Homo sapiens: one gene and its partners. The protein of the gene in region 1 interacts with the protein of each later gene in a biochemical or structural test. Each region holds a gene or a part of one and is shown in the gene's direction. Other genes may lie near its edges. The genes, in order: RASSF6, RHPN2, INTU, SIPA1L3, SIPA1, LMO7 and PDZD9.

What was found.
Region 2: the proteins of RASSF6 (region 1) and RHPN2 interact in a test that uses a peptide from one of them, tested with the Homo sapiens proteins (one large-scale study listed by IntAct).
Region 3: the proteins of RASSF6 (region 1) and INTU interact in a test that uses a peptide from one of them, tested with the Homo sapiens proteins (one large-scale study listed by IntAct).
Region 4: the proteins of RASSF6 (region 1) and SIPA1L3 interact in a test that uses a peptide from one of them, tested with the Homo sapiens proteins (one large-scale study listed by IntAct).
Region 5: the proteins of RASSF6 (region 1) and SIPA1 interact in a test that uses a peptide from one of them, tested with the Homo sapiens proteins (one large-scale study listed by IntAct).
Region 6: the proteins of RASSF6 (region 1) and LMO7 interact in a test that uses a peptide from one of them, tested with the Homo sapiens proteins (one large-scale study listed by IntAct).
Region 7: the proteins of RASSF6 (region 1) and PDZD9 interact in a test that uses a peptide from one of them, tested with the Homo sapiens proteins (one large-scale study listed by IntAct).

What each region holds. Positions count from the first base shown.
Region 1 is NC_000004.12:73,613,425-73,617,659, reverse strand, and holds part of RASSF6 (ras association domain-containing protein 6), read left to right. Parts: intron 1-1,723; coding exon of another isoform or gene 1,724-1,769; intron 1,770-4,235.
Region 2 is NC_000019.10:33,058,166-33,062,400, reverse strand, and holds part of RHPN2 (rhophilin-2), read left to right. Parts: intron 1-4,235. UniProt on the Homo sapiens protein: Binds specifically to GTP-Rho. May function in a Rho pathway to limit stress fiber formation and/or increase the turnover of F-actin structures in the absence of high levels of RhoA activity.
Region 3 is NC_000004.12:127,645,722-127,649,956, forward strand, and holds part of INTU (protein inturned), read left to right. Parts: intron 1-4,235. UniProt on the Homo sapiens protein: Plays a key role in ciliogenesis and embryonic development.
Region 4 is NC_000019.10:38,077,744-38,081,978, forward strand, and holds part of SIPA1L3 (signal-induced proliferation-associated 1-like protein 3), read left to right. Parts: intron 1-3,512; 5' UTR 3,513-3,822; coding exon 3,823-4,235. UniProt on the Homo sapiens protein: Plays a critical role in epithelial cell morphogenesis, polarity, adhesion and cytoskeletal organization in the lens.
Region 5 is NC_000011.10:65,647,715-65,651,761, forward strand, and holds the end of SIPA1 (signal-induced proliferation-associated protein 1), read left to right. Parts: intron 1-1,477; exon of another isoform or gene 1,478-1,539; intron 1,540-1,547; coding exon 1,548-1,766; intron 1,767-1,797; coding exon of another isoform or gene 1,798-1,846; coding exon 1,847-1,958; intron 1,959-2,042; coding exon 2,043-2,151; intron 2,152-2,235; coding exon 2,236-2,337; intron 2,338-2,423; coding exon 2,424-2,478; intron 2,479-2,686; coding exon 2,687-2,765; intron 2,766-2,854; coding exon 2,855-3,001; 3' UTR 3,002-3,198; downstream 3,199-4,047. UniProt on the Homo sapiens protein: GTPase activator for the nuclear Ras-related regulatory proteins Rap1 and Rap2 in vitro, converting them to the putatively inactive GDP-bound state. Affects cell cycle progression.
Region 6 is NC_000013.11:75,634,930-75,639,129, forward strand, and holds the start of LMO7 (LIM domain only protein 7), read left to right. Parts: upstream 1-1,400; 5' UTR 1,401-1,728; coding exon 1,729-1,797; intron 1,798-4,200.
Region 7 is NC_000016.10:21,994,189-21,998,423, reverse strand, and holds part of PDZD9 (PDZ domain-containing protein 9), read left to right. Parts: intron 1-1,922; coding exon 1,923-2,102; intron 2,103-3,115; exon of another isoform or gene 3,116-3,161; coding exon of another isoform or gene 3,162-3,186; intron 3,187-4,235.

The sequences.
Region 1 (4,235 bases):
AGTAATAAGGATGTTAACTTAAAGGAAAACTTCATCATCACCTAGAGCCTAGTAAAGGAGCTTAAGAGGAGAGAGTGTCGATTCTTTTGCAGCAAATATACAAACAGGAAAAATGAGTCGTGATCTTTGTGACGTCAGCCTAAGAATTTCTACTGGGAAGCTCAGGTGAAGCAGAAAATTTTTGAGTTCCACCACACCAGTAATTCCAGAAGATGCTGTCGGCAGACTGAGCAGCGCCTCCCAGACCCAGTGGTGGCAAGATGCCTTAAGTGCCTTAATACAAATTTGCTTCTCTGACCGTTTCTGCTTTCTTTATCTCCCTGAGGGCACCTTGAGCAGAATAAAATGCATGGCATTAGTACCATGTAAATATGCAATAGAACAGTAAAGTTTTGGCATTTCCAATTAGATTCCACTTGAACTGAGGGCAGTGGCATGCTCACATAGAAGTGTGTTTGATTCATATTCTGCTTAGTCCTCTCTTAGATTCAATGATTATAATACATTATTTCTATCTCAAAACCAACAATCACTGACTGCAACCAATATTACTTAATTAAGTGATAGTTTGTATATATGCCAACTCTTGACCTTTACTGTCTCTGCAAATAAAGCACATTTTAAGAAAAAGTATGGAGCCAAATGTTTCCCAGAAACCATCACTCTGTTAACTCTTTTCCTTTTTTGAGAGAACTAGATACTGGATGGAATTATAGATGCTTTGTCTCATTTTCTTGAAGTGATGTAATTGCATATAACTCTGCTCTTCTCTACTCCAAGGTTCCAGGTCATAACTTTGAGAAAACAGTTTCGTTTTGGAGATGAATACATAATTGTAACTTTCTATTGCTTCTTCAAGCTGAAACAATATTTTATTAAAAAGACTCTCCGTGTGTACAGCCCTTAACATACTCTTATCTCATAATTGAAATACACACTTGCTATTCTAGTGTGATACTTTCTGTTCTTTTTTTAAGTAGCTTTTACTGGGGACGTGGGTGAGAGAGATGTAACATATATTCCTTGTCTATGATTTAGACAGTACATACAAAATAAAAAAAGAAATAATTATCACACATAATCTCTTAGCTCTTAATTTTACCATTAATATTATAATATACCTCTCTGTATGTTGGATGTATTCAATATTTTGTGTATGTTTTATCTATATGCCTGCATATATTCACTCACTTTAGAAGACACAAAAATGAAATAGCAATAATTCTGTCCTAAAGGACCTAGTAATCAAATTAAGTAAAATAAAATATGGTTAGAGAGAGAAAGCAGTAAGTAATTAGAAAGCTACAGAAAATTTCCTGTGAAATTTCAGAAGCAAGAGAAATTGTCTTTGGCTGGGAAATACAGGGAAGTTAGCACCTGTATATATATGTATAGATAGATAGATAGATAGATAGATAGATAGATAGATAGATAGATATAGATATATGTATATATATTAGTTCTTTGTAAAATCATTAGCATTATGACACTTTGTGCACCTTGTGGCCTCAGAAATAAGAGGCTATAGATATAGATACAGGCTATACTTTCTGTGCCTAGCACGGTAGCAGGTGCAGAGAAGGAACTCGTGAAATATTTGTTGAATTTACAAACGAGTGAACCCAATTTTCCACTTTTAGATATGTAACCATTTAATTAACTCATGGTTGGATAACAGGAAGTTACTTTAAATGACTGACCCATTTGATTTAATTTGTACTAGAATTCACTTCCTGTCCTCTGGCCTCATTCTGGTCACAAGGCAACTGGTAAGTCCAGGCAAGCCCACCTCTAGGCAGGAATGCAGAGCAGGGGGAGGTGAACCACGTTCCAGCATTGCTGGAACGCTAATGCTGCCCAACACTGCCTCCTCAGGCTCCATCCAGATCTCATTGGCTTGTTCAGACCAATTCTACCTCTCCTATACTTCTAGTGCTGTTGATTTCTCCAGGACTTAATTGCTGACCTATCTAATTCCCTGTTTCTCCAGCTTCATTGTTTCTGGACAAAATGAAAAAGTAAATAACCAAACTTATTAAATAATGATCTTATTTTACACACAATCTAAGTCAATAATCTCTGGCCCCAGGGCCTACATAGATTTGTAACAACCATCTTCCTCCTCAAGTTGTAGTTTATTATGTTCTACCAAAATTACTGAACATCCCAAGTAAGACCTCCAGGCTTCTAGAACTGTAATTTTTTCTTTCTTCATAAATTCTCTCCCTCGTTGCTATTCATGACTTCTCTGTTATTCTCCTCTTAAGTCCTTGAGAAAATTTGCTCAGATGCTTATATCTACCAAGTCTTTATAATTTAGGAGATTTTCACAAGGGCCCTAGCAGGTTTTAGTTTGCTATGAATCATGGTGAATGGGAATGGGAAGATGAGGATGAAAAACTATTTGAATTCATAGATCTATGCCTCACTTCATTGTTTTTGTTTGTTTATTTGTTTTGCTCTTTTTTTTTTTTTTTTTTTGAGACAGAGTCACACTCTATCACCCAGGCTGGAGTGCAGGGACACAATCTTGGCTCACTGCAACCTCCATCTCCCAGGTTTAAGTGATTCTCGGGCCTCAGCCTCCCAGGTAGCTGGGATTAAAAGTGTGTTCCACCACACCCGGCTAACTTTTGTATTTCACTTCACTGTTAATACTAACAATGGGACTTTTACCAAAGCATGTTCTTACCTTTCAGGTATTTAAACTGTTTGAATATTTTATTTACCCAATTTTTAGATCAGACATGAATAATATTATTTCCTACTCAAATATTATGTGCTGCCTATGAATGAAAATTTTATCCTGTTTTTATTTTCTTACATTAAATTATATTCAACTTTCTTCCTTCCTAAAGTCAGAAAATAATATAAGAGCCTTGGAAACCCTTTCATCACATCTTCTGAAGTCTTCTGAAGCTGGCTATGAGTTACCTCAGCATAGATCAACAGTGTGTCACTATAACTACATTGCAATTATTTGCCCTCTTTAATGATATCTTTGATATTTCTTATGAATGCAAATAAAGAGTGAGCCAGTTGGAAAGCTACTGCAATGATTTTTCAGTCCATCACTGCCAATTTTCACTTTGTAATTATAAGAAGCTGCTATCAGTGGTTCTTCAGTTCCAAATATCCCCAGTGTCTGGTGAGGGAAGCAAGCTGTCTGGTTCTTAGATGGTCTTTTTGCTATGCTCTGACATGGTGGAAGGGTCCAGGCAGCTTCTGGGGTCTCTTTTATAAGGGCACTAACCACATTCATGAAGTCTCCACCATCATGAACTAATCACCTCCTAAAGTCCTCACCTGTTAATACTATTGCATTGGGGGTTAAGTTTCAACATCTAGGTTTTGTGGGGACACAAACATTCAGACCACAACAGAGGGAGGCCCTCTAGTAGGCTGACGCAATAATCCAGGAAAAAGATGATGGTGGCTTGGCTTAGGGTAGTAGCAGTGGAAATCAAAGCTTTCGAATTTGGAATATGTTAGTGGTACAGTGAATAGGACTTACTTTTGGATTGAATTTGGCTTATGATGAAAGAGGGAAAAAATGAGACTAAATATTAGTTTTGATGCCTAGATGGGAAAGAATTGTGGAGGAGGAAATTTTAGAGCATGGGAGAAAGTCAGTGGTTCTTTTTCAGCCATGTAGATATCGAGATGCCTGGTACACATCTAAGTAGAGATTAGGTAGGTGGTGACATGCGTCTGGAGCTCAACAGAGATTATGGGATGGAGACAGATTCGATTACCTGGAAGAATGTATAGATAGAGAAGAAAGGATGGCTGAGAATGGACACTCAAACAAGCCAGTATTTAGTGATCATACAAAGGAGGAATCAGCAAAGGAGACTAGTGTTGAGGCCTGTGAGATAGCAGGAAAATAGAGTGAGGTGATTGTTATTCATGGTTTGTCTCAAAAGCATCAAGAAGAAAGTGTTTTAAAAGGTAGGAAAATCAATCTTGTCAAATGTTGCTAAGAGGCCGAGAAATGAGGAGAGAAGTGAACTCTTTGGCAAGGTATAGGCTCTTGGAACATGGATGGAGAGGTGGAGGTAGGGCTAAATTAAAGGAATATATGATAAATAATCTGGACCCAGGAGGAAGAAGGAAGTGTTTGGACCCCAGGGTCATCACTGGGGGATTTCAGTCGGGGACATTAATAACCCTTTTGGTGGGTTATTAGAATGACAAAATCCAGGGGCAAAACTCAAGTTTGAGAAGCTGGAGGA
Region 2 (4,235 bases), on another chromosome or scaffold:
AACCTCCATCTACCAGTTTCAAGTGATTCTCCCGCCTCAGCCTTCCCAGTAGCTGAGACTACAGGCGCATATCAACCACGCCTGGCTAACTTTTGTATTTTTAGTAGAGGCAAGGTTTTGCCATGTTGGCCAGGCTGGTCTTGAACTCCTGACCTCAGGTGATCCACCCACCTCGGCCTCCTAAAGTGGGGTGTTTTTTAGATGCAGTTTCTCTGGTGTTGGATGAGAGAATCAGGGGTGCAAAATAAGAGGAATCATTGTTTTACAATTAAAATCATCAATTTTGAAAATGAGACCTTGTAACAATTGTTGTGCTACTCCATGTTAAGTCATACCAGTTCGAAGAGTCTATTTATCCTAGGAAAATAAAAGGTGTTGATGCTGAATCTTTCCTGATCTATGACCTGAGCCAGTTTGACCTAAAGCAAATGAGGGTCGGGTGTGGTGGCTCATACCTGTAATCCCAGTAGTTTGGGAGGCCGAGGCAGGCGGATCTCTTGAAGCCAGGAGTTCCAGACCAGCCTGGGCAACATAGCAAGACCTTGGCTCTATAAAAAATTTTAAAAATAAAAATGAAAACAAAACAAAACCAAATGGCCGAATGAAAGGCAGGTGCTGACCAGGCGTGGTGGCTCACACCCGTAATCCCAGTATTTTGAGATGCTGAGGCAGGTGGATCACTTGAGATCAGGAGTTCGAGACCAGCCTGGCCTACATGGTGAAACCCTGTCTCTACTAAAAATATAAAAATTAGCCGGGTGTAGCGGCAGGCGCCTGTAATCCCAGCTACTTGGGAGACTGAGGCAGGAGACTCGCTTGAACCCAGGAGGCGGAGGTTGCAGTGAGCTGAGATTGTGCCACTGCACTCCAGCCTGGGCAACAGAGTGAGACTCCGTACCCCTGCAACCCAAAAAAAAAAAAAAATCCCAGCACTTTGGGAGGCTGAGTCTAGTGGATCACGAGGTCAGGAGATCGAGACCTTCCTGGCTAACACAGTGAAACCCCGTCTCTACTAAAAATACAAAAAATTAGCCGGGCGTGGTGGCGGGTGCCTGTAGTCCCAGCTACTCGGGAGGCTGAGGCAGGAGAATGGCGGAGCTTGCAGTGAGCCGAGATTGCGCCACTGCCTGGGTGACAGAGCGAGACTCCGTCTCAAAAAAAAAAAAAAAAAAAAAGAAAGGCAGGTGCTGTCCAGGTGAAAGGAGAGAAAGAGCCCTTCAGGAAGAGGGAACAGCTTGGACAGAGCTGTGGACTTGTGAGTGCTTTGTAGGCCCCCCCAGGGTGTGGAGGTGTTTGTGGGAGCCAGGCAGTTCAGGGTCATGCATCTTGCTTGACCTGGGAACTGTGGAATCCATCAAAGTATTTAAAGCAGGACCAGACCTGTGAGATTTGTGTAAGAAAAAGACCGCTTTGACACGTGAATGGTGAATGGGTGGCGAATGGGAAAGAAGCTATGGTGGAGCCAGGCAGGGAGGCATTGGGAGGATTTAGCCCCTTGTAATACCTATCATCTTTGCCCTTCCTTCTCTTTTACGGACTACTGATGATGCAGTCAGTGACAGTGCTGTGAGTGGGGTGCAGTGCCTCACACCTGTAATCTCAGCATTTTGGGAGGCCAAGGTGGGAGGATTGCTTGAGGCCAGGAATTCAAGCCCACTCTGGGCAATAAGCAAGACCCCATCTCTATAAGAAGTTTAAAAATCAGCCTGGCATAGTGTTGTGTTCCTGTAATCCCATATACTCAGGAGGCCTAGGTGGGAGGATATCCGGAGCCCACGAGGTTGAGGCTGCAGTGAGCTGTTATCATGTCACTGCACTCCAGCCTGGATGACAGAGTGAGACCTTGTCTCACAAAAAACAAACAAACAAACAAAGAAACGGCCGTGTAAACACAGCCTCAATCACCCATTCTTTCCACCAGCTTGCACCCTTAGCTCAGACCAGGGGTCCACACAGAAGGCAGGGATTCTAGTGATGAGGAGGTTGGAATGATAGAGCTGGAGAAAGGGCAATATCTGGCAGAGAGGGAAAGAACTGATGTGATTGGCAGGGAAGGAGCTGCCAATGAGAATCCAAAATGCCTGCCTATTAGCCAGGTGTGGTGGCACCCAGCTATGGTCCCACCTACTCAGGAGGCTGAGGCAGCAGGATCGCTGAGCCTGGGAGATGGAGGCTGCAGTGAGCCGAGATCACGCCACTGCATTCCAACCTGGACAGCAGAATGAGACCCTGTCTCAAAAAAAACGTCACAATGCCTGCCTGAGGTGTCTGGTCATGCGCCTCCTCAAGATCCATGAATGCGGGTGAACGCGGAGGCTAGTGTGTAGACTTGATGGCCCTCATGGGATATCCATGTGGCGGTCCCAGCAGAGAGCCCACTCCATGGGCCCAGCAGCCATGCAGGCGCCCTGGCTGGAGATGCAGTTTTGGGTGGCACCAACTGGGAGGCAGTTGGGGTATTGAGTGAAAGGATCTGGGCTAGAAAGGATCCTCCGCTTAAGAGGTGGGTAGAGAGGTGGGAGGAAAGCCAGAAGGGTGGCCAGGTCTAGGAAGCTGAGAGGTCAGTCTTGTTAGTCGAGCAAGGCGTGACAAGTCAGAAGAATGCTGGAAGGTCCTAGATTTAGTTCTTTAGGAGTCGTTAGGAAATGCATGGTTGGAGAATTGGGGACAAAAGTCAGTGTGACAGGGTACAGGGGGAGAAGGGCAGGGAAGATATTGCTGGAGAAAGAGGGGAGCTGAGAAGAGAGAAGGCAGCTTTGTTTTAGAATGTGGAAGTCCAGAGCTGGTTAAAGACAAAGGTGTGGCAGGGCACAGTGGCTCACACTGTAGTCCCAGCACTTTGGGAGGCCGAGGCAGGCGGATCACCTGAGGTCAGAAGTTTGAGAGCAGCCTGGCCAACACGGTGAAACCCTGTCTCTACTAAAAATACAAAAAATGAGCAAGGCGTGGTGGCGGGCACCTGTGATCCCAGCTACTCGGGAGGCTGAGGCAGGAGAATTGCCTGAACCTGTGAGGTGGAGGTTGCAGTGAGCCGAGATCGCGCCACTGCACTCTAGCCTGAGCAGCAGAGCGAGACTCCGTCTCAAAAAAAAAAAAAATGATAAAAGAAAAAAACAAAAGTGAAGAAGTTGGGTGGGGAATGGCTGGAGATTCAGGGAGAAGGTGAGCTGGGGATGGGGCCCAGGAGTCGAGGCGGGGGGTGAAGATTGCCAACAGCTGCTGCATTGATTGGGTGGCTGAGCCAGCCGGGGGCAGTGAGTGAGAACCCATGAGGCTTCCCATCTTGTATTATTATTATTTTTTTTTGAGACAGAGTCTTGCTCTGTCCCCCAGGCTGGAGTGCAGTGGCACAATCTCAGCTCCCCGCAACCTTCACCTCCTGGGTTCAAGCGATTCTCATGCCTCAGCCACCTGAGTGGCTGAGACTACAGATGTGCGCCACCATGCCCGGCTAATTGTATTTTTTAGTAGAGACAGGGTTTCACCATGTTGGTCAGGCTGGTCTTGAACTCCTGACCTCAAGTGATCCACCCACCTTGGCCTCCCAAAGTGCTGGGATTATAGGTGTGAGTCCCTGCACCTGGACCTGTATTTTGACTATTGGGATTTCTTTGTTGTTATTGAGACGGAGTCTCGCTCTGTCGCCAGGCTGGAATGGAATGGCGGGATCTTGGCTCACTGCAACCTCCGCCTCCCGGGTTCAAGTGATTCTCCTGTCTCAGCTTCCTGAGTAGCTGGGACTACAGGCGCGTGCCACCACGCCCAGCTAATTTTTGTATTTTTAGTAGAGTTGGGGTTTCACCATGTTGTCCAGGATGGTCTCAACCTCTTGACTGCGTAATCCACCTGCCTCGGCCTCCCAAAGTGCTGGGATTACAGGCATGAGCCACTGCGCCTGGTGACTATTGGGATTTTATGCACACTTAAGGATCAAATGAATTTCCACTGAAGTCAGGCTTCTCTTTCATCCTGTTCTCTGTGTCATGCCTTCCCTCCCCTTTTCTTTAAAATGACATTATGCTCCATTCATCCGAAAAGGATTTATGGAGCGACAGCTCAGTGCCTGACCCCTCCTCAGGTTCTGGGGCATTCCAGACCCTGACTCGATACAGTTTCTTTGGCAGCAGTTCCCAGCAGGTCTCGTTTCCTGGAGTGCTGAGCAGTGCTGGGAATTGGTGCTTTGTTGGGATGGCTCCGGCCATGCTTGAAAAGGAATCAGCCTCTTGGCTTTTTTT
Region 3 (4,235 bases), about 54 Mb from region 1:
GACTAATTTTTTTGTATTTTTTAGTAGAGATGGAGTTTCACCATGTTGGTCAGGCTGGTCTTGAACTCCTGACCTCAGGTGATCCACCCGCCTCAGCCTCACAAAGTGCTGGGATTACAGGCGTGAGCCACCGTGCCTGGCCAACTGTTGTTGTTTTAAGCCTCAGAATTATTTGGATAGGCCTGGCGTGGTGGCTAACACTTGTAATCCCAGCACTTTGGGAGGCCAAGGTGGGCAGATCACTTGAGGCCAGGAGTTTGAGACCAGCCTGGCCAACATGGCAAGACCCCGTGTCTACTAAAAAATACAAAACTTAGCTGGGCCTTGTGGTGCATGCCTGTAATCTCAGCTGCTGGGGAGGCTGGGGCACGAGAATCACTTGAACCTGGGAGGCAGAGGTTGCAATGAGCCAAGATTGTACCACCGCACTCCAGCCTGGGGGAACACAGTGAGACTCTGTCTCAAAAAAAAAAAAAAAAATTGTTTGGATGACTTATTATGCAACAATAGATGACTGGAACAGGGGCTAATACATACTTACATTCTCTTGGGTCCTCTACTTTCCTTCTTGTGAAATGATAGGATAGAACTAAATATCTCTATGGTTTGTTCTTTTAGTTCTGTAAAAGGAGCCAGAATTCATTTAACGTGCCCCCCTTTCAGTGGTGTTTCCTGTGAGTTGGTAGTTAGATCTTGAGGCCTATCAAACATATTTTATAGGTGGTCTGTGTGCTTCCATCAGGAACAACATATTATCTGCTGTTTTTCTTTTTGTGATATTAACAGTTATTGATGATCATTGCCTAAATCCATTAATTCATTAAGGGACTGCAAAATGGTGATATTCCAATTCTGTCAGTCTTTCTCAATATTTCAGTTAGACTACTTTCATAAAAAGAAGCTCCCCCTCACCTCTGGTAACCTTGACATATGGTTTAGACAGGAAAGGCAGGATAAATGTCTGATTTTTCTTCATTTAACAGTTTTCACAAAAGCAAGTTGGTACCATTATTCAAGGACTTCAGAATGGTAGGTTGGGAGGGGCCTTAATTCTCTCTAGTTTGGTGCCCACATATTATAGACGAGGGGTTGAGATTGAAACTCAAAAAAAAATAACAAAATTTATTGTTAGTAAATGCATTGGCAGAAAACATTGAGTTTTGAATGTATAAAATGGCAGTATAGTAACTGCTTTTCAAAAACCAGATTCCCTTTCCCTGAAGTCAAATTTGGCTTAATTAAAAGGATCAATTTCAATTCACAATTTGATCTCATTTTTCTGTCCCATACATATGTGCCACTCCTTCTATCCATAAATCCCCACCTCTAACAAGCAAGCCTGATTTATTTTTTTCCTAACTGACCTCCAGATACACCTTGTGTGTCCATCTTTGCTTTTTAGCATTCGTGATTCCTTTTTTGGTGCATCACAAAGATTGCTTTGTATTACTAGGCTAGTGCATTCATCTTCTATTGCTGCCGTGACAAATTACCACAAACTTAGTGGTTTAAAACAATACAGATTTATCATCTTGCAATAATGTAAGCCAGAAATCTAAAATGGGTCTTCTTGTATGAAAATCAAGGTGTCCACAGGGCTACATTCCTTTTGGAGGCTCCAGGGAAGAATCCCATTCCTTGGCCAGCTTTCAGAGGCTACCTGCATTCTTTGGCTTGTGGTCCTGTCCTCCATCATCAAAGCCAGCAGCATAGCATCTTCCAGTCTCTCTCATGCTGACCCTGACACTTTTGCCTTCCTCCTATAAAGACCTTTATCTTTACCTGACGATCATTCGGATAATCCAGGACAGTCTTCCAATCTTTTAAGTTAATTACAACTGCAAAGTCCTTCTTGCTGTGTAAGGTAGCATATTCAGAGATTTCAGGGATTGAAACATAGACATCTTTGGGGGGCAATTATGCTGCCTACCTCAGTGGGGGGTTTTTTGGTAAAATATGAGTTTTTTTTCTTTTTGTGATAGTAATAATATACGTTCATTGTAGACAATTTAGAAAATACAATTAAGCAAAAAAGAAAAATTCCATATACCCAAAGACAACATTTTGTTATATATCCTCCCTTTTCCTACATTTATATACAATAATCTTTTGTCAAAAATAATTTAAGTTGTATATTCATTTTATATATAGTATAAACACAGCAGTAAACAAACTTTTGCATATATATTTTCATAGCCCTTGGTGCCTTATGTAGTAGCCCTTTAGTACACATGTTGTTTGATGTTAAGTATATACTGAGAAATTGATGGCTTTTCTCACATAATTTAACTTTACATTGAGGAACTGTGATAAACTGATCTCTTTTTAAAATATTTTATTTGGTTCTTAAATATATCTCTTAATAAAAATTTTCTCATATTTCTACCCAGGCCATTTCTTATTTAACAATGCAAATCAATCATATAATTCATTCCCTTTTAGCCTTTGAAATGGGACAGATCATATTAATGACTCCCGTGTACTTATGGAGAAAGACCTTTCCTTGGGTTTAGGATGTCCACTGCAAAGGTGCGATGTCCGGGAAGCCAGCCATCTCTGAGTCACTTCACAGAAGTGTTCAGAAACACTAGAGGAAAACAAATGTCTGGGAGAATGAGAAGTGGATATAATATTTATTTCATAGAATGGGAAAATTTTCTACTAAACATTTAAAAATATTGGGTATACTACACTTGCTTTCAGAATTTATTTTCATATATTTTTATGATGAACCATCTCCTCTTTTTAGAGGTTTGTTAGACTTGATAATTTTAGATAATACTCCCTATAACACTCAGCTACAGGAATGTATTCATTAGGATTTGGAGAAAAAAGTCATTTGGCACATCATCCAATGGAGTTTTAGTTTAAAGTAACAAATTTAAAATGTTTTTACTATTTCTGTGCCCTGAGGATAACAAACTATAGACAACAGAACTAATCATTAGGATAGTCCAAAAGTGGTTTCATTTTACATTGACACAGCTATACTGTGTCCATCATTCCTTTATTTTCTTTTAATCACTACAGCTATAAGTAATTTGATATAGTACTTTTGTTTAATCTCTTATATAGGAGAAATTAAACAGGCATCTTGTTGTGTTTTTTTTTTTCCAAGTGGACTTCAAGTTGAAAGTTTATTTTGGTCTGCAAGTTCTTACTTTTAAGAAAAGTTTGTCCAAAGTGCTGTAATAGTTAACCATCATAATGACTTGGTGCCCATGCTTGCAAAACTCCCATCTGAGTTGTATCTCTTGAGCATCTAAACCTAGTTCAAGCCTTCACAGTTGGCCTAAGAAAGTACTCCTGCTTACTCTGCACTTAACCCCATTCTCATTCAATAGAGTATCAAGGAGAGGAAGGAAAAAAAGGAGGAATAGCAGTACCTACAGTGGCAACATTTTCATCTGTTTGCCAACCCTACAGATGGCCAAGTGATGCCTAATAATGGGTTGCCTTAAAGGAAAGGAACTCTGAACTTAGGGAACACCAATCTTTTATAAAGAACAGTTATTAATAATAAGATATTGAGCACAGCATTGACCTTATTATACCATTCAGTAAACAAGCTTGACCTTTGCTCAGGATGGAAACATATCTCTGTTGTCCAAGGCTGTTCATTACACGAACGTCTTTGAAAAGACAGTCTAGAACAAAGACTCTCAATGCCTCGGCTTGTAAGATGTACAGAAACATGAGACTCATGAAGAATTATCTACCAACACGATTCTACATATACAGGTTGAGTACTCCTTCTTCAAAATACCTGGGACCAGAAGTGCTTCCAATTTTTTTTTTTTTAATATTGCATTATACTTACCTGTTGAGCATCCCAAATCTGACAATCCTAAATCCAAAATGCTCCAATGAGCATTTCCTTTGAGGGTCACGTTGGTGCTCAAAAAGTTTTGGATTTTGGAGGATTTTGGATTTTCAATTTTTGGATTTGGGATACTTAGCCTGTATACATGTTTATTATCCATCTTCCCCAAAGAATATTAAGCTCCCTGAGAGTAGAGATTTTGTCTTTGTTCAATTCTTTGTCTCTAGTGCTTAGAAGAGTGCCTGGCACACATTAAGTGCTCAGTAAATATTTCTTAAATGAATGGATGAATATGAATTATTTCATCAATTTCCTAATAATATATTTAGGAATGATGAGAAAAATAACTTTGGTATGTCTATATTTCTATTAATATAGCTCACTGGTATTTTGATAGTATCTTTAATTATGT
Region 4 (4,235 bases), on another chromosome or scaffold:
CACTGCATCCTCCACCTCCCAGGTTCAAGCAATCCTCCTGCCTCAGCCTCCCACGTAGCTGGGACTACAGGTGTGCGCCACCGCACCCAGCTAACGTTTCTATTTTTAGTAGAGACGGGGTTTCACCATGTTAGCCAGGCTGGTCTCGAACTCCTGACCTCAGGCAATCCACTTACCTCGGCCTCCCAAAGTGCTGGGGTTATAGGCATGAGCCACTGCGCCTGGCCAATATTTTTGCTTTTCCAATTGGGAAATGTTACATGCAACTCTAGATTTCTGATTTCTGTTGGAAAATCAGATGATCTGACATCCATACTCCCGCAAGCCTTGATTGTCAGAAGATGCCCTGCCATCCAGGTCAGTGCAGGCTCCTCTTGGCCTCTCTCCTGTCTCCCTTAGGCAACTCGACCCTGAGGGCTTTCCAGCTTCCTCTCTCTTCTGTAGCCCATCCCTGTGCTGCCTCCCGGCAACATCTTCAGGATCGTTTGTGTTCTCGTGGGGCACCAGGAAGAGGGGCTCCCCCTTGCTCCCCACTCTCCACCTGCCCTCTTCTGGTGCTCACTTTTTCAGAGGCTTCAGGCTCCCCTTGCTATTTGCTCCTTGAATCTGCTTTGAGCTTCCCTTGTGATCTCTGCCAGTGCGCTCCATAACTGGGCATAAATTAGGAAAAGCCCCCCTACACATGCGCATACATGCACACACACACACACACACACACACACACACAGGCACACAGACATGCACACACACACACAGGCACACAGACATGCACACACACACAGACGCACACAGACACGCACACACACAGACACGCACACAGACATACACAGAGACACGCACACACACACAGACACACACACACAGACACATACACGCAGAAGAGGCCTGCTACTTTCTCACACAGGAAGCTCCAATAGCCATTGATCAAGAACGGCTGCATCCAGCTCTAGATTCCCAGGGAAAGAAAAGTTAGAGGTCACCTTGAACCAAGTGCGTGGCCCAAAGCAGCACTCCACTGCCCTGAGCAAAATCAGTTCCGTTGGCAGGAGGGAGCGGGCACGGCTGCTGGGCAGTCAACAGCTTCCATCACAGACGGCGACCCACTTTCCCCTTCCTCTCCAGCAGGATTTTCATCTTCTAGAAGTTCAAGGTGGAGACAAAGGGAAGTGACCCCGCAGGGTGTTTTATATGCTGGACAGAAGCACAGACTCCCTTCCCCAGGGGCCTGCAAATCAGGAGGTACTTACACCTCCAATTAGGCAGAGGCCATCTGTTCACTCATATGTATAATACTAAACGAACGTCCTGGACGTTCTAGATGGCTCACGCCTGTAATCCCAGCACTTTGGGAGGCCAAGGCAGGCGGATCATGAGGTCAGGAGATCGAGACCATCCTGGCTAACACGGTGAAACCCTGTCTCTACTAAAAATACAAAAAAATTAGCCAGGTATGGTGGCAGGCACCTGTAGTCCCAGCTACTCAGGAGGCTGAGGCAGGAGAATGGCGTGAACCCAGGAGGCGGAGCTTGCAGTGAGCCGAGATCGCGCCACTGTACTCCAGCCTGGGCAACAGAGCGAGACTCCGTCTCAACTGTTCTAGGCACTGGGAATGCATCAGTGAACAACACAGACATCCCTGCCATTCTGGAGCCAACATTTGAGTGGTGGACCTAGCCAGTAGACAGAACGAACAACTGCTAAGAAAAATTGGAAGAAAGTAGAGTGGGTAATTAAGAAAGGCTTCCAGAAGACCGGGCTTCTCTGTCTCTATAGGGTGATTTGGGAAGGTTTTTGTGTTTGTTTTTGTTTTTGGGGATTTTTTTTTTTTTTTGAGATAGGATCTCGCTTTGTTGCCCAGGCTGGAGTGCAGTGGTGTGATCGTGGCTCATGCAATCTCAACCTCCCGGGTTCGAGTGATCCTTTTACCTCAGCCCCCTGAGTAGCTGGGACTACAGGCACATGCCACCATGCCTGGCTAATTTTTGTATTTTTAGTAGAGATGGGGTTTTGCCATGTTGGCCAGGCTGGTCTTGAGCTGCTGGGCTCAAGTGATCCACCCGCCTTGGCCTCCCAAAGTGCTGGGACTGCAGGTGTGAGCCACCGTGCCCAGCCGGAAGTCCCCATGGAAGAACTGACATCATGGGAAGGAACCAGCCCCAAGAAGGACTGAGGAAGGATATCAGATGTCCTGGATAAGGTTTGGTGCATCAGAACAGAAAAGAAGGCCAGTATGATCAGAGCTTAGTCAGGGATGGGGAGAGACATGGAAGCCAGATCCTGCGGGGCTTGTGGAGCAGGGGAAGGAGTTTGGATGGTGTTTTAATGCAGTAAGTAGTCACTGGGGAGATCTCAGTGAAAAAGTGATGGGCTCTGATTTACCCAGTCATAGTCTGCAGTAACCACATGGATTTCTAGAGACATTCCTTCTGCAGCTTTCCTCCCCAAACTCCACTGGTGCTCATGTTGACTCATCTGTCATTTTCACTTCCTTTCTGGCAGAGTAGCTGAGCTGAGCAAACAACAGAGCAGGTGGACAATAGTCTGGCCTCTGCATGAAGCCACCAGTTCACAGGAAATACAGGGGGCAGAGGAACATGTTAAGTGGCACCTCAGGGATCCTGAAAGTGGGGAAATCCACAGGACAGGTGACCCCTTTCCTTCAACAAGTAAAGAGCATCAAAATAAAGGAAGGTGGCCATTGTAGAGTAGAGGAGACTTGAGAAAATACCTGCATAAGCAGAGGATGATTTCGAACAAACCAGCTCACAAAAGACACCTGCGAGACAATGATGGGAAATGTAATGCAGGCAGGGTAGTGCATGACATTAAAGAATTCTTGTTAATGTAGATGAGTATGATAATGTTACTGTGATTTTTTTTTTTAAATCTTATGTACTAGAGATACAAGCTAAAATATTTATGGGTGAAATGACCTGATGTCTGGCCAGGTATGGTGGTTCATGCCTGTAATCCCAGCACTTTGGGAGGCTGAGGCGGGCGGGGATTGCCTGAGGCCAGGAGTTTGAGACCAGTTTGGCCAATATGACAAAACCCCGTCTCTACTAAAAATAAGAAAAATTAGCCGGGCATGGTAGCACATGCTGGAATTCCAGCTACTTGGGAGGCTGAGGCAGGAGAATCATTCGAACCTTCGAGGTGGATGTTGCAATGAGCCAAGCACATGCCACTGCACTCCAGCCTGGGTGACAGAGCGAGACTCTGTCTCAAAAAAAAAAAAAAATGATGTCTGGGGTTTACTCTAAAACATTCTATCAGAAACAAAGAAGGTCACAAGGCTGGGTGAATAGATGAAATGGGAATGGAAAATAGTTAGTGGTTGTTGGAGCTGATGGGTGACTCAGTCTCCTCTCTGCTTTTGAGTATGTTTGCAAATTTCCATAATAAAAAGATTTTTTAAATGAGTAAGGCTGTCAAGAAAAGTCACATGTCCCACTTTCTGGGAGCAGTAACACGGCCATCGCAGCTCATATTTTCCTTTTCTTCCATTTCAGCATGGCGAGGACAACATCCTTGCTGCCTCCAGCTGGCGGGCGACCACAGCTACTGCCTGCTCTGCGCTACTGAGCCACTCGGTCTGGAGCCCCCAGGACAGCACCTGCTTCCTGAGGTTGTCCTGGCTCAGCTGTGCACAGCGATGGTGGAGAACTGGACTCCACAGGCTCACAACCTTCCTGTCAGGTTTCAGGGCCCAGCATCCTTCATCCTGGGCCTGGCTGCCCTGAACAATGGCTGAGGGCTGGGGGACCCCATAGAGTGACACCACAGCGTACGGGGCCAGCAGCACTCCAGTGCCCGTGGACTATGACCACCTATCGGGCCATCCCCAGCGATGGTGTGGACCTGGCAGCCAGCTGTGGCGCCAGGGTGGGCGATGTCCTCCCTGGGCCACACACAGGGGACTACGCTCCCTTGGGATTCTGGGCCCAGAATGGCAGCATGTCCCAGCCTCTTGGCGAGAGCCCGGCCACCGCCACCGCCACCGCCACCGCCACCACCCGCCCCAGCCCCACCACTCCCGCAATGCCCAAGATGGGCGTGCGCGCAAGGGTGGCCGACTGGCCGCCCAAGCGGGAGGCCCTGAGAGAGCACAGCAACCCAAGCCCCTCCCAGGACACAGATGGCACAAAGGCCACCAAGATGGCCCATTCCATGAGGAGCATACAGAACGGACAGCCCCCCACCAGCACCCCGGCTTCCTCAGGGTCCAAAGCCTT
Region 5 (4,047 bases), on another chromosome or scaffold:
TCTGCGCCTCCCGGGTCGCCATCAGCAGTTTCAGGAACCCAGTGTGGATACCTTTCCTTCTGGAAAGAATCTCCCGTCTCTTAGCCCGTCTGAGCCTGTCTCTTCCTGTCTCTGTCTCTCTCTCTTTCTCTGTCCTTCCTTCCTCTCTCTCTCCTCTCTCTTTTTTTTTTTTTTGAGACGAAGTATCCCTCTTGTTGCCCGGGCTGGAGTGCAATGGCGTGATTTCGGCTTACTGCAACATCCGCCTCCCAGGTTCAAGCAGTTCTCCTGCCTCAGCCTCCCTTGTAGCTGGGATTACAGGCATGCACCACCACGGCCGGTTAATTTTTTCTATTTTTAGTAGAGATGGGGTTTCACCAAGTTGGCCAGGCTGGTCTCGAACTCCTGACCTCAGGTGATCCACCTGCCTCGCCCTCCCAAAGTTCTGGGATTACAGGCGTGAGTCACCGCGCCCTGAACCTCTATCTTCATATGTAGAATGGGACCAGTTAAGCGCGTTGCTCCCACTGCTTAAAAGATCAAATAGCAGCCCCCACTATCTTTTTTTTTAAGTATTGGCACCCGCCCACCCAACACACACACTACACACTATTGATAACTTCCTGTGCTAAGCCAGGGGTAGGCAAACATTTTCTGTAAATGGCCAAATAATAAATATTTTAGGCTTTCTGGACCATCTGGTCTCTGCCGCAGCTACTCTGTCGTAGGTAAATGAATAAATAAATGTGCCTGTGTCTCGCTAAAACTTTATAGACACTGAAATTTGGATTTTACATGATTTTAACTTATCATGAAATATTCTTTTGATTTTTCCACTAGTTAAAAATGTAAAATCCGGACCGGGCGCGGTGGCTCATGCTTGTAATCCCAGCACTTTGGGAGGCTGAGGCGGGTAGCTCACCTGAGGTCAGGAGTTCGAGACCAGCCTGGCCAACATGCTGAAACCCGTCTCTAGTAAAAATACAAAAATTAGCCAGGTGTGATGGCAGGCATCTGTAATCCCAGCTACTTGGGAGGCTGAGGCAGGAAAATCACTTGAACCCAGGAGGTGGAGGAGGTTGCCATGAGCTGTGATCGCGCCATTGCACTCCAGCCTGGGCAACAAGAGCAAAACTCCATCTCAAAAAAAAAAAAAAGTAAAATCCATGCTTAGCTCGCAGTACAGAAACTGGCACATCTGCTTTAGAAAAGAAAAGGAAAAGGCACAGGCTGGATTTGGCTACAGACAGTAGTTTTGGGATTTAAGCAATTTACACGTGTTATTTAAATCCTCACAGCACACTATGAGGTTCGTACTATTATCCCCATTTCACAGATGGAGAAATTGATGTTCAGAGTGATTTGCTTGGGATATACAGGGGCAGCACTGGAATTTGAACCATGGTCTGGAAAAATGGCCAGTAACCAGGCAGACATTTTTCACTGTTGTCAGGATGCCGGGGAGCTCTCCTGCTCCTGGAAGTGAGCCTGGCGGGCTGGGGGTGGGGCTAGTGATGCAGGACGCTGGGGACTGGAGAAGTCCTGCCTGACCCTGTCCCACCCCACAGGAGTTTTTCGGAGCTGTACACGCTGTCGCTGCAGGAGCCTAGCCGGCGGGGGGCCCCAGATCCTGTGCAGGATGAGGTCCAGGGGGTGACCCTGCTGCCCACCACAAAGCAGCTGCTGCACCTGTGCCTGCAAGATGGTGGCAGTCCTCCAGGGCCTGGGGATCTGGCCGAGGAGAGGACTGAGTTCCTGCACAGCCAGAACTCGCTGTCACCACGCAGGTGCACACTCTTGGCCTTCCCTCTCCTCCAGGCCTCTGGGAAAGCGGCTTCCCTTTCTGAGCCACCCCTGCTCTCCCCAGCTCTCTGTCGGATGAGGCCCCAGTCCTGCCCAACACCACCCCGGACCTCCTCCTGGCCACCACAGCCAAGCCATCAGTACCCAGTGCTGACAGTGAGACACCCCTGACCCAGGTGAGCAGAAACCAGGCTCTGGAGCCCAACAGCACAGTGGTGACAGTGGGCATCACTGAATCTGTATCCACTTCTGTGGCACAGGACAGGCCAGGCAGTCCCAGTGGCTCTGAGGACAAGGGCAACCCGGCGCCGGAGCTGAGGGCCTCCTTTCTGCCACGTACCTTGTCTCTGCGGAACTCCATCAGCAGGAGTGAGTCTGGACCCAGGAGAGCAGGGGAGGGGTTGGGGGGTGCTCCTGGGCTTCCCTAGCTCAGCCTGCTCCTTGTGCCCACAGTCATGTCGGAGGCGGGCAGTGGGACCCTGGAGGACGAGTGGCAGGCCATCTCGGAGATTGCCTCTACTTGCAACACCATTCTGGAGTCGCTGTCCCGAGAGGGTGAGGCCACCAGGGTGCTGCGGTAAGCCTGGGCAGTGCTCTTGCCCCCTTTCTGACCTGCCCACCTGATCCCTTTGTCCCCACAGGACAGCCCATCCCAGAGAGTGGAGACCCTAAGGGAACTCCAAAATCTGATGCTGAGTAAGCTCCCCAACTCCCCACAGCCGCTTTACCTGCCCACATGACCCCCCCTTCGTGCCTGTCTGCTGGGGTGGAGCTCTGTCCTGGGCTCTGCTGCCACATATGCCTAGAAGACCAGCGGGGCCCCTCTCATTAGCTGGGGCTGGGAGTCAGCTGGTGCACTGCCCCCTGCCTTGGTCCTGCTGAGTCTTGACCCCCATGTCTTCAGGCCAGAGCCTGGGAACCTCTCAGAGAAGGTCTCTCACTTGGAGTCCATGCTCAGGAAGCTGCAGGAGGACCTGCAGAAGGTGAGGGGTGGGCTGAGCTTGGGGGGAGTCACAGGGCTGCCCCAGGAAAGGGGCTGGCGGCTCTGACTCCTGTCTCCCCGGCACCCCAGGAGAAGGCGGACAGGGCGGCCCTGGAGGAGGAGGTGCGGAGCCTGAGACACAACAACCGGCGGCTGCAGGCGGAGTCTGAGAGTGCAGCCACACGCCTCCTCCTGGCCTCCAAGCAGCTGGGCTCACCCACCGCCGACCTGGCCTGAGCCGTCTGGAACCACCTGGGCCCCTGAGGGCACTGTGGTCACACTGGGCCCTCCTCAGGAACTCTCCCTGCGCAGAGGCGTGTCTTAGCACTGCCCCCCTCCCTAGCCCCTTATTTGGTGGCGGAAGTGGCCTCCACCCCTTCCCTGTTTGTAAATATTCTGTGGAGAAAAGAGGACTTCAGGGAGTAAAAAAGCCACTGATGTCTGTGTCTGAACATGTGTCCAAGACAGGGCAGGGCAAGGGGTTTTGCCTCCAGAGGCCCCAGCCAAACTCCTCGGACCAGTCAGGACAGGCCCTGGGAACACTGGCTCAGAGATGGGCTGGCACTCACTGAGGGGTCCCTGAGGCCAGGCCACTGCTTGGCTTCTCTCCCATAACGTTTATTTGGTTCTGCAGGGAAGCAGGTGGCCACACCCCACAGCTACCCTGGCCGTGCATCACAAGGCCCTGTGCCTCAGTGCAGGCCTCACTCTTCTCTCTGAAGCCACTGAGCCCCCAGGCCTTGTCCTCTCTCTACCCACCTGGCCACTTCTTGCAGGGCCCAATTCCAGAGGCGGTGGCATCTCCGCCTCAGTTGACTGGGGCTGTTTCTATGTCCTGGAGGAAACGGGCCCTTGACCCACTTCCCTCCTCACCAGCCTATGGTCCTCTCTGTTCCTCGCGAGGCCAGGCCTTTCCCCGAAGTGGCATCATCAAGTCCAAACTTGGGACTTTGTCTAAATCCTTTGGTTTCTGGACCTGAGGCCCAGATAGGGCAGACTTGCCCAGCATCTCATGCCTATTCCAGTCCCTTCCCTAGGCTGGCTGAAGCTCCATGGTGAGACCTAGGCCCTGGGTCTGTTAACTTAGGTGCTGGCAGGATGAGCTAGGCTCGGAGAAACAGAGCATCTGAGGATCAGGAAGGCTTCATGGAGGAGGTAATATGAGGGCTGAGTTTTGAAGGCTGGGTAGGAGTTCACCAGGCAGAGACGTCAGAGGTATCCTGGTAGGACCAGTCTGGCTGAGGCCTGCTGGACTAGAGCCAAGGCACACCCAGGAACCCAGC
Region 6 (4,200 bases), on another chromosome or scaffold:
CAGGAGACGGAGGTTGCAGTGAGCCGACACGGTGCTACTGCACTCCAGCCTCGGCAACAGTGAGACTCCATCTCAAAACAAAACAAAACAAAACAAAACAAAACAAAACAAAAACAAACAGAAAGTAAATACAATTTAAAAAATTAAAAAATAAAACCCTCCAGCAGAAAAGGTGATACATAAGGCAAAAGGCAAACAGTTGTTAAATACAGACGCTAGGTTTTAGATAGTATTCTACTAGTCTCTGCTCTGTATCTGACGTTTTTCTTCATAAAAACAACCAGAAAAATAAGAACAAGAGTTTGCTTTCGTTTCAGCAGAGTAAGAACCGGTCTTTGTCTTCCGCCAAAGATGAAGCCATCAACCTGTGGCCTGGATAGTGCCTCAGGAGCGTGGAGTGAGGGACCAGGGAGCTCAGACAGATGAGTAGGCTCCTTTGTGGAGACCTGATTTGAGCACTGGTGTGAAAAAGACCCGCGCAAGCCGACCCGTGTGCCTCCCGCCCCGCCCCCAACCCCCCGGCCCTGCACACCTACCCAGGGCCGCGGCGGATACCGCATAACCTGCCACCTCGCTGTCCCCTGAGTGTCCTCAAACCACGAAGGGTGGGAATTTTGACGCTCACCGCGAGGGCGATCATCAAACGGCCTAAACTGGGCTGAGCGGGCGGGAAGTGGGGAATGCAAGGAACCCTCCAGCTTGCTCGAACCCTCAGCCGCGAGCCGGGGTGGAGGGGCAGGGACCCTCCTTCCACCGCACCCACCTGGAAGCCGGGCGGAGCGGGGCCGAACTCCGCCGGGGGGAAGCGGCAGCACGTGCCAAGGCCACGACCCTCCTCTGCCGCCGGGAGGGCCCGGCCGCCGCAGGGGGCGGGGAGCGTGGGAGGGGACGGCGCTCACCTGGCGGCTGGGCCGGATCGCGGCGGGAGAGCGGGTAGCGGGCTCAGCTGGCCGGGGCTCAGGTGAGGGCGGCGGGCCGCGCTCCCCAGCGGGGGAGGTTTCTTGGCCGGGAAAGGTACAATTGTGTGCAGCTATTTCTGGTATGTCAAGCGGGCCGGGCGGCCGCGAGCCGGGAGGGGCGCCGCTCTCAGGGGCCCGGGAGAGGGCAGGGGCCAGGCGGGCGGGTGCGGGAAGGATGCGGGCGCGGGGGCGCATCCTCTCGGGGCGGAGCCGCGGGCTGTGCGGGAACCCCAGCGGGGCCCGGGCCGCGGCCCCTGGCGGACTGTGGCATCTCCCGGGCCAGACAGTCTGACCACAGAGGCGGCCGCGGCCGGGAGCCCGGGGAGCCAAGGGAGGGGCAGACGGAAGCGGCGACTCGGCGGGCCCCGGGAGGGCGGTGGGGTGGGCCGGGGCGGGGCCACCGCGGGGAGGACGGCGGCGGCGCTGCGACTTTTGAAGTCCAAACTGTCGTCGGGGCTGGTGCCGCGCGCTGCCGCTGGGCACCCGCTTCGCTTCCCGCGTCCTGCCTGACTGCCCGGGTCCCCGCGGGCCTTGGGTCGCTTTCAGGAGTTTAGAGAAAGCCAGGTCTTCACGTTCGTGTAGGTTCGAGACCTTAACGAACTGCAGAGCGCAACAAAGGGAACTAGAGCCCCGGCGCCTTCGCAGCCGGAGCGGAAGCCGGAGTTGTGGGAGGCCCGCGTGCCCTCCCCGCCCGTGGGGCCCAGACGCGCGGGGACAACCCCTCCCCTCCACGCATCCCGAGTCTCTCTCTCCCTCCCTTGTCCTAGCCATGGAAGGGCTGGAGGAGGCAGAGGCCAACTGCTCCGTGGCGTTCGCTGAGGCTCAGAGATGGGTGGAGGTGAGTGCCTTTCACTGCTTTCCCTTCCGCAGGTGTTGACTGCCTCGGGGCGGTCGTCGCGAGGTGACTGCAGCCCCAGTCACTCTGCACTTTAGCCTCCTTCGGCGACCCAGCCGACGTGAACAAGCTGGTTTGCTTGTGCACTTTTGGGGACTCTGCGGGTTCTGCCGCTCCTGCATCTTATGTCCCGCTTAGATTGGCGCTGCCCTAACCCCCGCCCCCCGACGGTGTCACTGGCTTCCTAGGGCAGAGGTGGGCGTTCGCCTGCCGGCATCGCGCGTCCCGGAGGAGCAGCGCAGTCCGCCCTGGCTCGCCCGGGGCGTCTCTGCGGGGCACAGCCCAGAGCGCGCGGTGCAGAGCTGGGCCAGGGCTCTCGGGTGCATTCCCTCGGGGTGCCTAGAAGTGGGGATGCTCACCTTATACCTGAGAAGCCAGTGTATTCAGTGTGGAGGGGGGGAGCGGAAAAGAAGGGTGGGTGGGAGGGCAGGTGGAGGAGGTAACACACCGAAGGCCCACCTGGAAGGATGATTTCTCTGGGGCCGCATCCAAGCCCAGGGGGTAGGGGCCGGGGCATGTGCTTTTTCATTTTCGGCTTTGATGAGACTGAGATCCTAGGATCATTCGCTGAAGAGCTGTTACCCTCCCAGCTGTGCCTCACAGACAAGATCTTCCATTCCCTTCTTTCACCCTGAAAAAGAGCGGGTCTCTTCATTAACGCCTTGGGGCTACATTTATCTGTAGAAGGTTAACATCAGGACTTCTAGCCGTTATTCCACTGGACGCAAAAGATGACTTTTAAAACGAGGCAAAAGTCTTCCAAGCAGATGTGAATCAGGAACAACTGCTGAAAATTGAGGCGTGCACAAGCCCTGCAGTCATTTAGGAGTTATTGATGCCACGTGCTGGTTTAGTTAACATATTTAAAACTTCGAATTAGGCTTAAAGATTATTCCACGGAAAAAACTACATGTTTAAGAATTCCAAAGCGAACGATACTTGAAAATAATGTATTTTTCCTTAAAGAAATACATGTATGTGTGTGGAAAGAAAGAATAAATTACATTTCTTACGCTAAATAAAGGAATGTGAAATGTGAGTAGCATTAACCACGGGACAGTAGGGAGGTCTAAGGAATGAGCTTTTAGTGTCTTTTTAGATTGAAACTTTGAGCTGGTCTGAAGGTGACTTAGAAAGATGTGAAGGGAGGGGCATGGGAAGTTGAGAGAAGAATAAACGCTGTATTTTGAATTGAAATGAGAGTGGAAAAATTCCAGCAATATAGTTAAGAGAAATAACTTCCCTCATTCATAAACTTTGAAAAGCCAAGACTTCCAACTGTAATTTTCCATTAGCAGTGTGTGTTCTGCATAATTTTAGAAAACAAACTTGCCATTTTGTGTTTGAGTGTTGGGGATTGAAGGAGGGAGAAGGGGAGACGTGGGGACATGTTTTGGTCATACATGGCTTCTGTGTGGAGTTTGCATCTGCGTGCTTTGTATTTGCTTCAGGAAACATGAATAGGAATGATTCCACACCCTTCCCTTTTTTTTTAGTATGCACATTTTGGAAAACGATGAATTCCTTTTTTGTCCCTGCTTGCTCATAATTATGTAGGTTTTCTCCAAGAAATTTGTATGTAATGAATGGGGGGAAAGTGTATTGTGATAAAAGATATCATTGCGCATATTACATGTGGTCTGTTTTCACTCTCATCGCAGTCTATGTAAAGGTGTTTATCAGCAATGATTTGGCACCTCTATAATGTATTTTGTTCATCGTTAGCAGAGAGCTGGATCTTCCTAAAGGTACTGTCATATCCTTTTAATATAGTTAATGAAATTAAAATTTTTTTTCATCCCACTTGGAACAAGGCAGTATGTTTGCCTTCATTGTGTATATATGAGTAATTTACATGTTCAGATACTTTTAGTATACTCTGGGCATTTGAAATGACCACAGTGTGCTCACTGTTAGGGCTATTTTGTTTCTCCAGTGTCCACATCTATCTCTCTTGTCAGCTTTGCCTTTGCCACCAAAGCACATATTTTAAAATATTGTTCTTGCCAAAAGAAGCAGGATGAATGACTCTGTCATCATCACAACCTCTTTAAGAACCCCTAATCTGAAGATAAAAGGTTGATTCCAATGTGTATTTGTAAAGTATTCTTTCCCCTGCTTGCTGATAGTCTTGCTACATTTTGCCCTATTCCTTTACACATTACTGAAATATAGGAGGGTTTTTAAGTGTATATATTGTATATGTATGTACATATATACATATGTATTATAATATATGTTCTATCTGTATTACATATATATTCGCAACTGCAGCTTTGAATACCCCAAAGTCAACTCCAATAACCTTGTAAAGTTTTGAATGATGACTGGACTCCATGTCAGCAT
Region 7 (4,235 bases), on another chromosome or scaffold:
GCCTTGCACAAAGTTTTTTTTGTTTTTTTTTCAAGATGTACTTGTGTTTCTTGCCTTCCCGAACTTCTGCATTTGCTTATAGAGGTCTGGATCAAACTCCTGAGACATGTCCTTCTTCTGTAAGGAGCCTTTTGAGTCTGGCTTCTTTTACTTAACCCTGCTGACTTTTAAAAGTGGGCTCCTGGTAGCTTACCTTATAAGCATATTGAATTTACAAACTGAGATAGGAACCACTGGACCTTGCCCAAGATGTGACTTCTCTGTTTGCTCAGGAACCAGAGGCTCAGGCAGGGCGTATCCTGCCCCCAGTTGCTCCCAGAACCCTGAAAGGTCTCTGAAGATGGTATCTTGTTTATATTATGCTATTTTATTTTCCCAAACAGAGAGCATCTGTGGTTTGGGGGAAGGTGAGGTTGGAGATGGGCAAGGACATTTGCTTTAGAGGAAAGGGCCATGAACCCCTCCAGCTCCCCACAGCCAGAGGTAGGGAGCTGGGGGAGCCTCTCCCTCAGCAGTGGCCCTGAAAACACCACAGTCACATGGACTTGGCAAGCTTGTGTGTCACCTGTCCTTATGGAAAGGAGTTGTGTGTGAAATGCTGGAAAAGTGTGCTGAAAACAGATCTCCCCAGGAGCTTCCTGTGTACCGAAAAGGAGTTTCCTAGCAACTTCCTCTTGGGAAATTAACTTGTTGTTTTGAATGTCCTTTTAGTCCCTGAAATTTTTCTTGTGAGATTTGGTTCTGTAGAAAACATATTTCAACCTCTCCCACTACCCCTTGTCTCCAAGGCCTTCGGATTTTCCCCCATGTGCTTTTTGGATCCATCCACTGCTCATTTCCGCTGTCACTGCCATGACATGTGCCAGGACCCTGTCATTTTCATGTCATTTCATTTCATCTAACCATGTCCAGCTTTACTCACTTCGGAGCCTTTTCACTAAGGAAGTCTGAGAAGCAGCCTCTGTCTGGTTGGTCCTCGCTCCTCCTGCCTCCCCCTCCTCTGACAGGGACTGTTCCTTCCTTTCTCAGACCTTAACACAATTTGCTCCGGATCCACCTTTCTTTGCCTAAATATTTCCTATTGGTCCTTTTGGCCTTAATTCAAATTTTAGCCCTGCTGGAAGCTTGACCCGCCATCCCCAGATGAGACTTTGGCCCTCTGTTACTCATTCTCAGAGCCCTCCGTCCTTTTCTTTCATAGCATGAGTTACAGTTTGTTATCCAACATATATTTACATGACTGATTGATATCTGTCCCCTCCACTAGGCTGTAAAATTCATGAGGACAAGAAACACATGTGGGCCAGGCACGGTGGCTCACACCTGTAATGCCAGCACTTTGGGAGGCTGAGGTGGGAGGATTGCTTGAGTCCAGGAGTTCAAGACTAGCCTGGCCAATATAGTGAGACCCTGTCTCTACAAAAACAATAAAAATTAGCCGTGTATAGTAGCACATGCCAGTAGTCCCAGCTACTTAGGAGGCTGAGGTGGGAGGAGCCCTTGAGCCCAGGAGATCGAGGCTGCAGTGAGCCCTGATAATGCTGCTGCACTCCAGCCTGGGCAACAGAGTGAGACATTGTCTGTTAAAACCAAAAAACCCAACACATCTGTTTTGCTCACCATGGTAAACCCAGGGCCTAGCACACTGTATCAATAAATATTTGTTAAGTGAACAGATAATACTAACTAATATTGATTAAGCACTCACAATATGCCAGACTCTGCAAAAGCCCTTTAATGCACCCATTTAATTTTCAGAAGAGCTCTCCAAGGTGAACATTTTTATCCTCATTTTACTGACAAGGAATCTGAGGAACAGGGATTAAATAACTGTCCCAGGGATCTGGCTTCAGAACCCCAGTAGGTATGGCCATGCTTCTGTCTTGGTGAAGGACTGAAATAAGTTCCCCTCTTTTGGTTAGAAAGAGGAGTCAGCAACAAGGTCAAAACATCTGTACACAACTTGAGCAAAACACAGCAGACCAAACTCACTGTGGGTAGCCTGGGATTAGGCCTCATCATCATCCAGCATGGACCCTACCTCCAGATCACCCACCTCATCAGGAAGGGGGCTGCAGCCAACGACGGGAAACTCCAGCCAGGTGATTGCCCTTTCGCCATGCTTCCCAACCACCCATCCTGCCCATCTGCCTGCAGGGTGACTCGGGTCACCGGGTTTCAGTGTAACTATAAGGATATGACGGGCATGCTGGCTCATGCCTGTAATCCCAGCACTTTGGGAGGCCAAGGCGGGGTGGATCACTTAAGGTCAGGAGTTTGAGACCAGCCTGGCCAACATGGTAAAACTTTGTCTCTACTAAAAATACAAAAACTGGCTGGGAGCAGTGGCTCATGCCTGTAATCCCAGCACTTTGGGAGGCTGAGGTGGGTGGATCCTGAGGTAGGGAGTTCGAGACCAGCCTGGCCAACATGGTGAAACCCTGTCTCTATTAAAAATACAAAAATTAGCCAGGCGTGGTGGCACATGCCTGTAATGCCAGCTACTTGAGAGGCTGAGGCAGGAGAATCGCTTGTACCCAGGAAGTGGAGGTTGCAGTGAGCTGAGATCGCGCCACTGCACTCCAGCCTGAGTGACAGAGACTCCGTCTCAAAAAATAATTAAATAAATAAATAAATAAAATAAATACAAATACAAAAATTAGCTGGGCCTAGTGGCGGGCGCCTGTAGTCCCAGCTACTCAGGAGGCTCAGGCAGGAGAATCTCTTGAACCCGGGAGGCGGAGGTTGCAGTGAGCTGAGATGGCAGCACTGTACTCCAGCCTGGGTGACAGAGTGAGACTCTGTCTCAAAAAAAAAGGATATGACATTAGTTGAGAACTTTCTATGGGCCAGCCAATGGCTATCACTTATATAACTATCACTGTTGGGCATATTAATTCATTTAATTCTGGCTGGGTACAGTGGCTTACACCTGTAATTCCAGCACTTTGGGAAGCCAAGGTGGGAGGATCCGTTGATGCCAGGAATTCAAGGCCAGCCTGAGCAACACAGTGAGATGCTGTCTATATTAGTCCGTTCTTGCACTGCTATAAAGAAATACCTGAAACTGGGTCATTTATAAGAAAAGAGGTTTAATTGGCTCATGGTTCTGCAGGCTGTACAGGAAGCATGGCTGGGGAGGCCTCAGGAAACTTACAATCATGGCAGAAGGTGAAGAGGAAGGAGGTATGTCTTACATGGTTGGAGCGGGAGGAAGAGAGAGTAGGGGGAGGTGCTACACACGTTTAAACAACCAGATCTCATAAGAACTCACTCGCTATCACGAGAACAGGAAGGGGGAAATCTGCCCTTGTGATCCAGTCACCTCCCCCCAGGCCCCTCCTCCAACACCGGGGACTACAGTTGAACATGAGATGTGGGCGGGGACACAAATCCAAACCATATCACCATTTCTACAACAAAACGAAAGCAGCCCGGCATGGTGCGTGCCCGTAATCCTAGCTACTCAGGAGGCTGAGGTGGGAGGATCACTTGAGTGCAGGAGGCCGAGGCTGTAGTGAGCTATGATTGTGCCACTGCATGCCAACCTGGGTAACAGAGTGAGACCCTACCTCTAAAAAAAAAAAAAAAATTAAATTTACTTAATGAGGGTCAGTGAGATTGAGTTCCTTGTCCAGGTCACCTGTTTCTCCTAAGTGGGGATTCAGGGACCATGTTACTCCAGAGCTATGGCTCTCAGTGCGTAAAGATATTTTCTTTCGTAGGCAGTATTAAGCATTGCTAACACTTAGCTGCACGATCTCATTTCACTCTCACAATCCCTGAGCTAGATTCTGCATGAAACCACCTTGCAGACAAGGAATCAGATGTTTAGTAACTCTCCCATGGTCACTCTGAGGAGCTGGGATTTGAACCTTCTCTGTCAGACTTCAGAGCCTAAGGGCTTTACCAATACTGCCCTGCTCCTCGTGTCTTTGGGTGAATGAATTTTCCATGCAGTTCAAGAGGTGTTTTCTCAGTGCCTGGCCTGGGCCTAGTACTGTGCCCAGGAGTTGGGGAGGCAGAATGGGCTGGCGCCATGGTGAGAAAGAAAAAACATTGTGTTAGCTGTCCTGATTCAGGCTCAGGGTCTGACACTTTTTAGTTCTGTGACCCTGGGCAAAGCCACTTAACCTTTCAGGCCTTAGTCACCTCATCTTTGAATTGGGATATTCCTGTGTTTGTCAGAGGTTGCGCAGATTTGATGAAATAATGCATGTTTGTTTGATAGATGG